2 linked regions of the Homo sapiens genome follow. Changing the gene in region 2 together with the main gene of any one other region gives a genetic interaction. Each region holds a gene or a part of one and is shown on either strand. Other genes may lie near its edges.

Region 1 (7,064 bases), on a different chromosome or scaffold from region 2:
AAACTCTCCAGGTTTTCCTTTTCTACCTCTAGCTCCACCTTCTTATTCCAACTTTTCTTTTCTTTTTTTTTTTTTTTTTTTTTGAGACAGAGTCTGACTGTGTCACCCAGGCTGGAGTGCAGTGATGCGATCTCAGCTCACTGCAACCTCTGCCTCCTGGGTTCCAGTGATTTTCCTGCCTCAGCCTCCCGAGTAGCTTGGATTATAGGCATGCACCACCATGCCCAGCTAATTTTTGTATTTTTAGTAGAGATAGGGTTTCACCTTGTTGACCAGGCTGGTCTTGAATTCAAGCGATCTGCCCATCTCAGCGTCCCAAAGTGCTGAGATTACAGGCATGATCCACCGCACCCAGGCTTCTCCCTAGGTAATCTCATTCGTACCTCTGGCCTCAAATGTCATCTATGTGCCAGTGATTCCTAAGCTTACATCCCTATGCTAGACCTCTCTTCAGAGCTCTAGACTCATATATCCACATAGCTACTTAATTTTGGCCCTGGATGTCTCAAAATTAAACTCTTGATGTTCTCTCTCATATGTGCTCTTCCTTTAATTTGTCCCTTTCATTATTAAATGGTACTGCCATCCTCTTCCAGCCACTAGCTGCTCACGCTAGAAACACTGGTGTCATTTCAGATATTTCCATTTTTCTCACTAACCAAGTCTAATCCTTCAAGTTCAAAATATAAACATAGAAATGTTCCATTTCTCTCCATCTCTACTGCACCCACTCTCATCTTTTGCCCAGATTACAGTGATAGCCTCCTAACTGGTCTCCTTGTATCCCATTTTGCCTTCTCCAGCGCAGTCTCCAAACACTAACTTCAGTGACCTTCTGAAAATACTACCACGATTATATCATTCCTGTGTTTAAATTCCTTCTACTGCTTCCCACTTCACACAGGATAAAGTCCAAAAATATTAATAAGAGCAACCACATACTTCCTGACCGGGCCTCTGCCCACCTCCTGAACCTCATCCCTTGCTTACTGCATTAAGGCTCCACTGCCTTTCTCAATCTCTCAACCGAATAGGCTCTTTGCCTGCCTCAGGACATCTTCCTAAAATTTTGATCCCTCCATATTACACATATGAAGTAGTATAAGGCTAGATTATGCTTTGGTAGCAAATAATCCCATCTAACTAGCTTATGCCTAAAACGGTGTATGTATTGCTCACATCACAGTCTGACATAGGTCAGGTGGCTCCTTAAAGAATTAAGTGGAAACTCAGGGGTTCAGAGTCCTCCCAGTCTGTGGCATACCCACATTAAAAATGTGGCCTTTGTTACAGCAGTTGAAAGAGAAGAGTGTGAGTGATTATGCAAGGAGTTTTCTGGTCAGGCCTGAAAATGTTATATATCATACCAATAGGATCTGCCCATACCCCATTGGCCAGATCATAGTCATATGACCCTAACCTAACTGCAAAGGAGGTAAGAAAAAAAAAAAAAAAGTCTTCCTGTGTGTCTAGGAAGAGGAAATGAGATTGGTGAACATCAGGCTACTTTTTGCCACATCCTGGTTAAAACCTACTCATTTTTAAAGTCTCAGCTTAAATAATACTTACTTACAAAGGTCTTCCAGCTCCTCCAACTTAAATTAGGCATCCCTGATACATTCTATTGTAGCACCCTGTAATTTTCCTTTACAGCATGATCACAATGGAAAGTTTATATTTCTTTATGTGATTAATATTTATATCTGTTGCTAGACTGTAGGCTCTATAGGAGCAAGGACTGCATCTGTTTTGCTCCCACTGTGTCTCTAGCACCTATTACAGTACTTGGTATATAACTGGTATAAAAGTTTTCGAGTGAACAAATGAACAGTTGCACACAGTCATTGCCTGGCTCCAAATAGCACATGACTTTTGCAGGAGAAAGACAAGTAAGTAGGCAGTCATGGTTTAGTGTGATGATAAATGTTCCAGGCAGGTAAGCCCAGGGAGCTGTGAAAGCAACCTGAAGGAACTTGCAAGGCTTCTGTGTTTTGTCTTTCACAGCAGTCGAATCCAGGAGTCTGCAAACTATGGCCTGTAGGCCAAATCTGGCTCATTGCCTGTTTTTTAACTGCCCTTGAGCTAAGGATTGTTTATATATATATATATATATATATATATATATATATATATATATATATATATATTTTTTTTTTTTTAGACAGAGTCTCGCTCTGTTGCCCAGGCTGAAGTGCAATGGTGTGATCTCGGCTTACTGCAACCTCCGCCTGCCAGATTCAAGCAATTCTCCTGCCTCAGCTTCCTGAGTAGCTGGGATTACAGGCGCCCACCACCATGCCTGGCTAATTTTTTGTATTTTTAGTAGATTCAGGGTTTTGCCATGTTGGCCAGGCTGGTCTTGAACTCCTGACCTCAGGTGATCCATCTGCCTCAGCCTCCCACAGTGCTGGGCTTACAGGTGTGAACCACTGCGCCTGACCTGTTTTTATATTTTTAAGTGATTCAAAAATAATTAAAAGAAGAATATATTACGATACATGAAAACTATGTGAAATTCAAATTTCAATGTCCATAAAAAATATTCTATTGGAACACAGCTACTTCTTTTATTTATTGTCTATGACTGCTTTTGCGCTACAATGGCAGAGCTGAGTAGTTGTGAAAAAGGTCATACAGCTTGCAAATCCTAAAATATTTACTATCTGGCCCTTAATAGAAAAAAGTGTGCTGACTCCTGATCCAATCCATGCTTAGTTTAAAAGATCACATCTATCTGAATTACGTCCAACTGTACATCTTTAAGTTTCTGCTTTTTCCCATTCTCGTGTCTGCTACTAGAAATCAGGTTCCCTTTAGTTCTATCCTTGCAGCAGGATTCCTGCCCTGCTATCTCTCTCCTCTTTTCAGTTCATCACTGTGTACTAAAAAAAATCTGCACTCTTCAGCACAGCATCCCTAGTTCCCCATTATCTTACCACACCTCACCTTGTCAGCTGTATCTCTTACATCATACTTTCATCTAACCTTATCAATCACTTAACCCACCCTTGCCTTCTCTGCTGTAGGCCAATGCTCACAGTTACTCTCTCTGTGTGGAATGTCTATTGCTGGTATTTCTCTCTTATCCATCCTTTACGTTGGTTATCTCAAATGCCTCCTTGCCCTAAAAGCTTTCCCCAGTTCCTCGTCTGGGAATAATTATTGCCATCCGTGCGAGATTCTCTAACGCTTTGTACGACTGCTTTATTTCAAATTCTGCTTTATAGTTCTTTTGTGTACACACACAGATTGTTTCTCACGTTCTATTGAAAGCTGCTTAGGGGAGGAATTGTATTCTATTTTGTTAATCTCTGCATCCTTTCGGCGCCTAGTAAGAGTCTTGTACGAAACAGAAATGTCTCTCCTTCGTAAAATTCCTCATCGGGAGCTGGGACTGTGAATTTTTGTAACGTTTAAGAACTATCTGTTATTTAAGAACAAACACTCTGCTTAACTTGTTTAGGGTTCACTAGAGCGAGTAAGACCTTTTTAGGGCACGCCGTCTCGCTGGTTGTCACACACGCATGGATCGCTGCCGGGACCCTTAGGTTTGTCTGCAAACACGTGGGTGATAAGCGCTACCCTCCAGGCCCCTCCTCTGTCCACGGTGATTGGCGGACCAAACGTTCCAATCATCCCTCCCCGCCTCTTTCGGCAGTAGCCAATCAGAGACCCCGAGCGCCTCCTGACTACTAGACACTGTTTACTAACAGATCGAAGCTGGGGAATAAGGGGTGTGACCGTTCTGGGGAGGTCAGGGAAGGGAAGGTCTTGACTGCGAGTGCGCACCAGAGGAAATGGGCGGGGCAGAGCTTTGGGTCTCACCAATCGGAGTGGCGGCGCTCCTCCCTCTCCTGCCTCCCCGCCAAGCAACAACAATTCGAGGAGCGAGGCGGGGAGGCTCGTGAAACGTCACAGCGTACTGCCCAATGGGAACCGGCGTTGGCAGACGCGCGCGCCCTGTGTCCAATCAGCGAAGGCGGCTCGAATGGCTCCCTTACCTTGCTGGCTGTGGGCGGAGCGGCCTGAGGAGGCGGCGGTGGAGCAGGGGGCGGTTTGGTTGCGCGGTACTAGCGGTGCCCGCCGAAGGGGGAGGAGGCGAGGAGCGAGCCGTGCGGCCAGAGCGGGAAAGAGACTCGTCTTTGCGTCCGAGTTCTGGAGCCGCCGCACCCCGACTCCTGGGGCCGCGGCAGCGGCTGCGAGGGGACGGGCGTCCGCTGTCTCCTGGGTTCCCCTCGTAGCGACCCGCGGGATCGGAAAAAAAGGAGAAGATGGAGGAGGAGGGTGGCAGCAGCGGCGGCGCCGCGGGGACCAGCGCGGACGGCGGCGACGGAGGAGAGCAGCTCCTCACTGTCAAGCACGAGCTGCGGACTGGTGAGCGACCCCGCCCTCTGCCGGCCGGGCCCGGCGCGGGGGCGCGCCTGAGGGCACGCGGGTGCCCGCGCGGGGCTGGGGGCGCGGGGCCGCAGCCGTGGGCGCGGAGGGGCGGGCCTGGGGCGGGGCGTCGCGGTCGGGGCGCGTGCCCCGGGGGTCCCGGGAGGTGGGGGCGCGCCTTGGGGGAGGCGGCCGAAAGTTTTCCCCAGCCCGGGAATGAGCGGCGGGCACCAGGCATCGGGGCCAGCGCAGCCGCCGACCGCTGCCCGTGGCACGCACCTCCGAGGATGTCGCTGCTCCCCCTTCCCGCACAGGTGACACACGTGTGTCTGCGTCCTGTCAGGGCGAAAGGTGCGCCTGCCTCCGCGTGGGGCGAGCGGCGCTTTGTTTTGGAGAGTGTCTCCCTCCTCCGCCCCTCTGGTCCCCGCGATGGGGGGTCCCGGTGGGGCTCTGTGGAGCCATCCCCTAAGGTGCTGGGGTCCTGTAGGAGATAAACGGGAGGTTTCGCCTCGGGCTTTTACCGAGTCCAGTCTAGAGACAGGAACAGGAATCGCCGGCTCCAGGGATTGAGTGCCTTTATTCTCACTTATCATGAAATACTATACTTGGCCTTGAATTTCCTTCAGAGGTCCCTGGAGATGATGGCTTTAGAAATTTAAAGCTCCAGGTAAAAGGAACTAACGAGCAGGCTTCAGCGCTTACGTTCTAATGTTTGAGATCACTAGCGTTGTCCTAAGCTTTATAACTAATTAAATGTATTCGTGGTGTAGGTTCAGGTTGTTCATTTTGGAAAATGCTTATTCAGACCAATCAGTACAATTTGGATTTATATTCTTGGAGCCCAGTCTCGTATTGTAGATATATTAATACTTTTTTCTCTGAACAGATAGTACATTTTAATGAGTCGTTCGTTATTACTAGATATGTTTGTGAGCGTTGAAGGTTTTTGACAGAGCTGCTTTGGCATATTGGGATTTTTTTTTTTTTTTTTCAGACAGAGTTTCGCTCTTGTTGCTCAGGCTGGAGTGCAGTGGCATGATCTCGGCTCACCGCAGCCTCCGCCTCCCGGGTTCAAGCGATTCTCCTGCCTCAGCCTCCGGAGTAGCTAGGATTACAGGCATGCGCCACCATGCCCGGCTAATTTTGTATTTTTTGTGGGGGCGGGGTGGGGGGGGCGGTCCTCTCCACGTTGGTCAGGCTGGTCGCGAACTCCCGACCTCAAGTGATCCGCCCGCCTCGGCCTCCCAAAGTGCTGGGATTACAGGCGTGAGCCACCGTGCCCGGCCGGGTTATTATTTAATTGTGAAGGCACAAAAGCTTAAACGGCAGGATTCAGGTGTCCACTAGTACATCTTGTTTCTGTTTTGAACAGATTGGAAAGTTAGCTCTGTCCGTCAGTTCTTTCAGTTTTTGTTATTTCTACTGAGATTGCCTATAAGCATTCCATTGGGTGCCAGTGTGGTGACTTAATTCAAGAGAGATGTCAAATTCATGCTTCTTAATTCAACATTTGTAAACATTGTTTTTTTGGTCATTGTGAATCTGTTATACATCTTGAGCCAGCTGTTCCATATTTTTGAGTTCCTAACATAACCTGTATGAATTCAGGTGATTTGGTTTTTCTTCTCTCAATTTCATAGACAACTGATATTTTCAAAAGACCCTGACATGGTTTACTCAGTATACATTTATTCGGATTTGTGCCACACTCAGTGTCAGGTGCTTTCTGGTGTGAAGATTTTGAATTTTTTTCTTGTCTTACATAACGATCCACTGATTTATATGTATGGAATCCTACTGTACAGCAAAAGCTACTTGAAGTCATATGCTTCTCAGCCATCGACTGTGGTGCAACAAGCAGCTTTTTGCTAAATGACCAAGGAGCAACCTGCTTGTTATTAGTAGTTAACCAACTGCTTGGTTTCTGGATTTTGCAAACAATGCTAGTTTTGTAGAAAACAATGAGTACTGCTTTATTTCCCCCTCTCTTCTAACTGTGTGAATCATCAGCTTCAAGTTCGCATTTTAGAAATTTTTCTGATGGATGGTGAGATTATACTGAATTCATTAGTACTGTTAACTGTCAAAGGAAACGAACAATCATTTTGATTTATTACTGAACACTGGAACAACTGACCGGATATAGTGGTCAAAAACACTGTTAAAATATAACTTGAAAGAGTTGCTCATCTTCAGCCAACTGCACTTCTTTCAGCACATGATCTATAATAGGCACCAGAGTAATTTGATCTGATATGGTCCCGTCTCAGAATGTAGATAAGCATCTAGTTATATCAGGCTGGCAGTTGGTGGTGGCTCATTTGTGCAGAACACTTTATTGTATTCCATAGGATGAATGAAAAAGCAAAAAACGTCCCATGAAAGGACATGGAGTTGGAAGACATGATTCTAAATCCCGTCTCTGCAGCTTAATATGTAGACATCGGCAAGTCACTTCACCCTTTCAGATTCACATCTTTAATCTATAAAATGTGAGAATTGAATGAGACACTGTTGGAAAAGTGCTAAGCGGGTTGCTTGGCATATAGTGGGCCCTTAGGAAATGTTGGTTGAATGTATATATAAAAATCATTCCATAATAGTATCTTATCTTGAAGTGTGTGAATTAATCCAGTGTAATTTGGGAAACAAATCACTCATTTAGTGTTTAGCCTATGTCACATTGCCTG
Region 2 (7,096 bases):
TCACCTCTTGCCAGGCCTCTGGCCTCTGTATCTACCTGCATTCTAGGTATCTGCCCTTACGCTCAAGCTTGCTACTGTATTTCTCATAGTATTTTACAATGGTGCTATTGTTTTTAAAATGGGCAAAAAATAAGGTGCAAAAGAGACAAAAATCTCATTAACTTTTTGGAAAGAGATATGCAGTTGTCCCCCAGTATCCGTGGGGGATTGGTATCCCCCAAGATACCCAAATCTGCAGATGCTTAAGTTCTAATATAAAACGGTGTATTTGTATATAACCTAGCCACATCCTCCCATATACTTTAAATCATCTCCAAATTACTTATAATACCTAATACAATGCCTACATCACTTCATTCCTGTGAATTCAACATAGTGCTTGGCATGTGGCAAATTCATGTTTTGCTTTTTGGAACTTTGCTTTGTGGAATTTTTTTTCCCAAATATTTTCAGTCCTAAGTTGGTTGAATCCACAGATATGGAGGGCCAACTGTAGGTGTTACTAGTTTAGCCCTTGATTCTGGCTCTGAAAATCCCAATGGTACAAAATTGACCACTTATTCAATATAGCTGGCTAATTCAACCCAAACACCCAACTCGCTGAGCAGATTTTACTGTTTATTATGGAATATTTGGAACACGTGGGACACTGGCAGCAATAACTACAGAAATTTGAGGAGCAGAGATATGGCAATGGTATATATTGAGTCTGAAAGATGTTCATTAAATAATGATGTTAAAAACAGCTAAATAGCTTACATATCTAACCTATAAATATTACACTTAAAAAGTATTCTTGGCCAGGCACAGTGGCTCATGCCTATAATCCCAACACTTTGGGAGGCTGAGGTGGGCAGATCACTTGAGGTAGGAGTTCGAGACCAGCCTGGCCAACCCCGTCTCTACTAAAAATACAAAAATTAGCCAGGTGTGGTGGTGTGCACCTGTAATCCCAGCTACTTAGGAGGCCAAGGCAGGAGAATCGCTTGAACACAGAAGGCTGAGGTTGCAGTGAGCCAAGATTGTGCCACTGCACTCCAGCCTGGGTGACAGGGGGAGACCCTGTCTCAAAAAAAAAAAAAAAAAAAAAGTATTCTTAGGTTTGAATCTGTTTTCATTTCCTAAGCAGATTATTTCATTTGCAGAATGTGTGCTTTTTTGTGATAAAAGTACATTAGAATGAAAAAGCTAATAAGTAGTGTTTAGTATTCGCAACCTAAGAAATGACATCTCCAGCTAATCAGGATGCCCAATCCTGAGAGGTTTTGGAGAAGTAATACAATTGGAGAAAAAAGTGGGCTTCGGGATGCTGGGGAATCTGGGCTCTGGCTAAGTTTGCCTCCGTGAGAGATGCAGCTGTAGACGTTGTAGGGAGGTAAGACCTCTTAAGAATCAGGAAAAGATTTAGCAGTGTCCTCTGTCAAAACACGGCCCCACTCCAAATAAAGCATCTTCTCTTTTAGAGCAGAAACTTTGCAAATTGAGGAAAGGAAACTGCAGCAGCACTGTGTGTGGGCAAGACCTCCAGTCACACTTGTGCATGTGTGCAGAGGGATACGCCCTAAGTCGAGACCGGAAGTACTGTGAAGGTAATGACTGGAAGTACTGTGAAGGTAATGGAAGAGTCGCTGCTTGAGGGGAGGAATGCTCAACTGAGCCAGCGGCTTGTCTTCAGTGGGCCAGCCAGAGACTCAGTGGAAAACCAACTTCAAGTCCATTCTCCCCGTCCCCCACACAACCCCTGAAGACTATTTTTTATTTATTTTTTCTTGTTTGTAAAACCTTTATAATACTTTCCTATCTTCATATCTTGTGTTTCTAGATCAAACACTGAGAGGATGCTTAGGGGTTGATATAAGGCAGGGATTCTCTAAGTGGATTCTACCAACCTCTGCGTTTGTGTGCAAAATTTCAGTATGTGTACATTTTTAGGGGAGTGGTTTCATAGGGATCGTAAGAGTCTCAAAGAGTCTGTGACTCCTATCTTATCCCAAGAAGATCTAGTAGGAAGCCTGGGAAACTGAGCCAGGCTGGTTTGTCTAAGAATCCTCCTGTTTTGAGATTCTGGACCAAGTGCAACGAACTCAGGAGAAATACTATGTCCTTTTTCCTGGAAGGTGCAGTAGTTTAGTGATGAAAAGAATCCAATGGCTGCAGCACACATACAGTGGAATTAGCTGGGGTGAGACCTCAGGTAAATCTAGCATCTGCCTGTTAATTATAACCCCCTGCTTACATGGGACCAATGGGTGAAAGCCATGGCATAGAGATAGTGAGCTGGAAGGCTGGGGCTTCAGCCAGAATAAAACTGCTGGAGAAGGTTTCCACATTTAGGGAAAGGGCTCTGGTCAGTCTTGAAGGTTGAAGAGCACAATAGGAAATGTCCTAAGCTTGTAAAGAGCTTTCAAGAGTCCCTAACTGAAATGGCATGCTATATCTTTTCAAGGGAAATAATACTACCTTTTTCCCAAGGGTTATTCTAATATGAAAATCTGTATTTGAAAGTATAAGCTGGGCCAGGCGTGGTGACTCACACTTGTAATCTCGGCACTTTGGGAAGCCAAGGCGGGCAGATCACTTGAGTCCCAGAGTTCAAGATCAGCCTGAGCAATGTAGCAAAACCCCATGTCTACAAAATATACAAAAATTAGCTGAGTGTTGTGGTGTGCACCTGTAGTCCCAGCTACTCAGGAGGCTGAGGTGGGAGGATCACTTGAGCTTGGGAAGCAGAGGTTGCAGTGAGCTGAGATCGTGGCATTGCACTCCAGCCTGGGTGACAGAGCCAGACTCTATCTCGGGGAAAACAAAAGCATAAAATGTGACAGAATAGAAATGGCTTTTATCATCATTTAATTGACTTATTTTACCCTTTGCTAGAGTATGGAAAACAGACTTTCCATGATCAATTACAGCATATACAAGTGTGAGATACCCTGCGTTGTGATGACTTATTAGTGATAGCACAATTTATTTTCAAAAATAGCCATTTGAATGTATTGTGCTGTTGTCATTGTGCAGATGTTAATGAATGTGCTTTTTGGAATCATGGCTGTACTCTTGGGTGTAAAAACACCCCTGGATCCTATTACTGCACGTGCCCTGTAGGATTTGTTCTGCTTCCTGATGGGAAACGATGTCATCGTAAGTTATAGCAACAAGTATTTATTGCATTAGTTTTCTTCATTTTCAATATGTTTCTAAGGTGGCTATGATCTGGGTTGGTGATCTTCAATCAGCAGTGTGCATCATAATTACCTTTGAGTTTTATTTTGTTTGGCTTTTTAAAACATGGATGACTGCCAGCCTGGGCAACATGGTGAGACCCTATCTCTACTAAAAATACAAAAAAAAAAAAAACTTAGCCAGGCATGTTGGCCCATGCCAGTGGTCCCAGCTACTGAGGAGGCTGAGGCAGAAGGATCACTTGAACCAGGAGGAGGAGGCTGCAGTGAGCCGAAATCAAGCCACTGCCCTTCCTGGGTGATGGAGTGAGACCCTGTCTCAAAAAGCAAAACAAAACAAAAACCATGGATGACTGGACTCTACCCCAGACCTATCAAATCAGAACCTCTCAGGTTGGGAAACAAATCATCTATAATCTATGTATTATAGGTATTTTCCTGTTTCTTTGTCTGTATTACCTTATATTTCATTGTCTATCTCTTTTTTATTTTAATTTTTTAATTTTTAAAAATAACTATTGGGTACTACATTTCATTGTATATCTCTAAAGGATAGGCATGTAAAAAACATAATCATGATACATTATTGTATCTAAAAAACTTAACTATAATTCCTTCCTATCATTTAATATCCAGTTAATTTTCAGGCATAACCACAATACCATTGTTATGCATTAAAAAATTAAGGCTAGGCACAGTGGCTCACACCTGTAATCCCAACACTTTGGGAGGTCAAGGCAGGAGGATCACCTGGCAATATTAGCAACTGATTGCAATAAATTTTTGCAAACCCGATTTAACACTAATCTTGACCTTGTTCTTTATTAATTAGAACTTGTTTCCTGTCCACGCAATGTGTCTGAATGCAGCCATGACTGTGTTCTGACATCAGAAGGTCCCTTATGTTTCTGTCCTGAAGGCTCAGTGCTTGAGAGAGATGGGAAAACATGTAGCGGTGAGTTTATTTGCTTTATTTACCTTTTGTTTGTTTGAAAACATACATTTGCTCAGTGACATCTAAAAATTGATCTTGTTGTCAAGGAAGAATTGATTTTCCAATATTGTATACTGAAAGATATTGTTACAACAGATTAACATAGATTTAAATTTAGTATTTTTGGGTTTTTGGCTTTTTTGTTTTTGTTTAGACAGCATAGCGTCTAACTTATGAGCAAGGGCTTTGAGGCTTGACAGCCCTGAGGTAGCATTACCAGTTACTAGCAGTTTTGATTTTGGTCTAGATACTTGCCCTCTCTTGGTCTTTGTTTCTTCAACTGCAGAGATACTGATACTTGCCACCTTGATTAAATGAGACTTCAGATGCAGAGTGCTTAGTCTGTTTCTTGCACCTAATAAACACCTCTCTACTTTTATCTTCATAGAGACTTAAGTATATAGATAACTGGATGTAACTCAGAATTAGCAGAAGAATTGTGTGTGTGTTTTTGATTTTCTAATAAAACAAAGCCAAGCAGCTAAAAATGTGTGAGAGAAAAAAATTACTAGGAAGAGTTAGACCAGCTGCCAAACTCATCAAATGGATTTTTCATTCTAGACAGCTGCCAGTGCACTTGCTCCTGAACTCATTGGTAGAATAAGAGGACAAGGGCCACTGGAATGTGAAGGATTAACATCCAAGATGTTGGGTTATAGGGAAGGAGGGTAGTGTGACATTTTGATTTTTATCTCTGAAAAATAACCTTGATTGCAGCCATATGAATGATTGTGGAAATGTTTTAAAAAATCAACATATGGGCTGAGTGCAGTGGCTCATGCCTGGAATCCTAGCATTTTGGGAGGCTGAGGCAGATAGATCTCCTGAGGTCAGGAGTTTGAGACCAGCCTGGCCAACATGGTGAAACCCCGTCTCTACTAAAAATACAAAAATCAACCAGGCATGGTGGCGGGTGCCTGTAATCCCAGCTACTTGGGAAGCTGAGGCAGGAGAATTGCTTGAACTTGGGAGGCGGAGGTTGCAATGAGCCGAGAGTGCCATTGCACTCCAGCCTGGGTGAAAGAGTGAAACTCCATCTCAAAAAAAAAAAAAAAAATTAACAAATGGTTGACTCGCCCCCATCCTTTGATGAAAAATAATTATATTTTGGATGACGTAGCATCATTACTAAGCAATTGTTTTTGTAGGTTGTTCCTCACCCGATAATGGTGGATGTAGCCAGCTCTGCGTTCCTCTTAGCCCAGTATCCTGGGAATGTGATTGCTTTCCTGGGTATGACCTACAACTGGATGAAAAAAGCTGTGCAGCTTCAGGTTAGTGCTGTGGTTGTCTGGAACTGTGTCCCTGAAAAAAAATTCATGAAAATCTTTTGTTTAGAAAGATGGAAAGTTAACTGCTTATGGTTTTGTATTTTTGAAATGGAAAAAAAGCAAATCACATTGTAAATATGAATAATATGAGTAATAACAATATAACTAGTAACCAGGCTTTTAAAGACTATTTCTATTCTTAATTAGCATCCGGCAAAGATTTGCCATAATATCAGATAGAATATTTTTAGTATATGAGAAAGTCATGACAAGAATAGTCTTAAAACACTTTATAGTTAAGAGGCATTTAATAAGTATTTGTTGATTGATTTGATTTTTATCTCTCTACTGAATATAATTATAACACTGACAAATTCTGTCCTTTTAATGTCAAAATTCAATATAAAGTTGTACGCTTCAGCTATTTTTTTTGTCTTCTGATATTACCTCTCTTGCATCCTTCAACAGCCATGGAAATTCTAGATTTATACCAAATTGATTTAATATCTCCTGAAGGTTCATTATGTTTTAAACATATAATGCTCATAATGCTATCATGTAATGATGATCCTGTATACCTTGCCCTAGTGAGACCCCAATACTGTTAACTTCTCAGGGCCTTCATTAATATAGTGTAATCTAAATCCTTAAAATTATCAAGGGTCTTGCTATTAACTCAAATCATTGTGCCTCCCTTTAAGAAGTGCCCAGGCCAGGGAAAGTTACTTATTCGGACATGAAAGTATACAATCTACTAATATTAGTGTTTCAGTATGTGTGAATCAAGAAGATGTATAACCCTAAGACTTGCATCATTTAGCTATGGTGTTGGTTATTTAACGCTGTCTCTTTCTGTAAGTAAGCAGCTTTTAAAAGCAAATACCTGGAGAGGGAAGAAACCAGAGATGAAATTCTGGCAATATGTCACCTCCTGGAAGAGGACATCCTCTTGCCTGTCTTCACCTATACCACACTAGAGGGAAATTAAGAAAACAAGTACTGTAGAAATTGGGTAAAAAGGTACAGTGAAAGGGAAGAGTCAGAGATGCCTCTTAGTTTCTAAGGCACGTTTTAAATTCAGCCATATTTGAAATTTGGTTAACAGGACCACAACCATTTTTGCTGTTTGCCAATTCTCAAGATATTCGACACATGCATTTTGATGGAACAGACTATGGAACTCTGCTCAGCCAGCAGATGGGAATGGTTTATGCCCTAGATCATGACCCTGTGGAAAATAAGGTATGGTTTTGTTACTTGAACAGATGTGGACATGCTTTAAGGACAGAGTAGAGGATTTTATCCTAACAAATGACCTGGCCTACTTGAAAATCCTCTGCTAAGTTCTGAATGATTAGGCACAGAACAAGTTAAATATAGATATTGGAGTAACACTTGAGAAATTTTAAGGACTTTTTTGCCATCATAATGCTACCCTAGTCCTTGCTACGATTAGCCGTTTTATTGGAAATGATCACACAGTTTAGTTTTAGATTTTCAGTTTAGTTTCCTCTTTGGAGATGAGGATGGGAGACTAGCACAGTGTCATGCATATAGAAGGAGCTTCATAACCAGGTTTTTTATTACTTGCTGGTAGTGAGAGGAGTGGGAGGTTGAGTTTGGGGCATAGGAAGTATGGATTAGTAATT

What was found. A genetic interaction does not mean that the proteins touch.
Region 1: of EGF (region 2) and RPS6KA5, changing one enhances a phenotype caused by changing the other (phenotypic enhancement), as found in Homo sapiens cells (one study listed by BioGRID).

Annotation. Positions count from the first base shown.
Region 1 is NC_000014.9:91,057,642-91,064,705, reverse strand, and holds the start of RPS6KA5 (ribosomal protein S6 kinase alpha-5), read left to right. Parts: upstream 1-4,064; 5' UTR 4,065-4,271; coding exon 4,272-4,374; intron 4,375-4,581; exon of another isoform or gene 4,582-4,688; intron 4,689-7,064. UniProt on the Homo sapiens protein: Serine/threonine-protein kinase that is required for the mitogen or stress-induced phosphorylation of the transcription factors CREB1 and ATF1 and for the regulation of the transcription factors RELA, STAT3 and ETV1/ER81, and that contributes to gene activation by histone phosphorylation and functions in the regulation of inflammatory genes.
Region 2 is NC_000004.12:109,957,849-109,964,944, forward strand, and holds part of EGF (pro-epidermal growth factor isoform 1 preproprotein), read left to right. Parts: intron 1-1,463; coding exon 1,464-1,589; intron 1,590-3,018; coding exon 3,019-3,141; intron 3,142-4,014; coding exon 4,015-4,137; intron 4,138-5,324; coding exon 5,325-5,450; intron 5,451-6,552; coding exon 6,553-6,689; intron 6,690-7,096.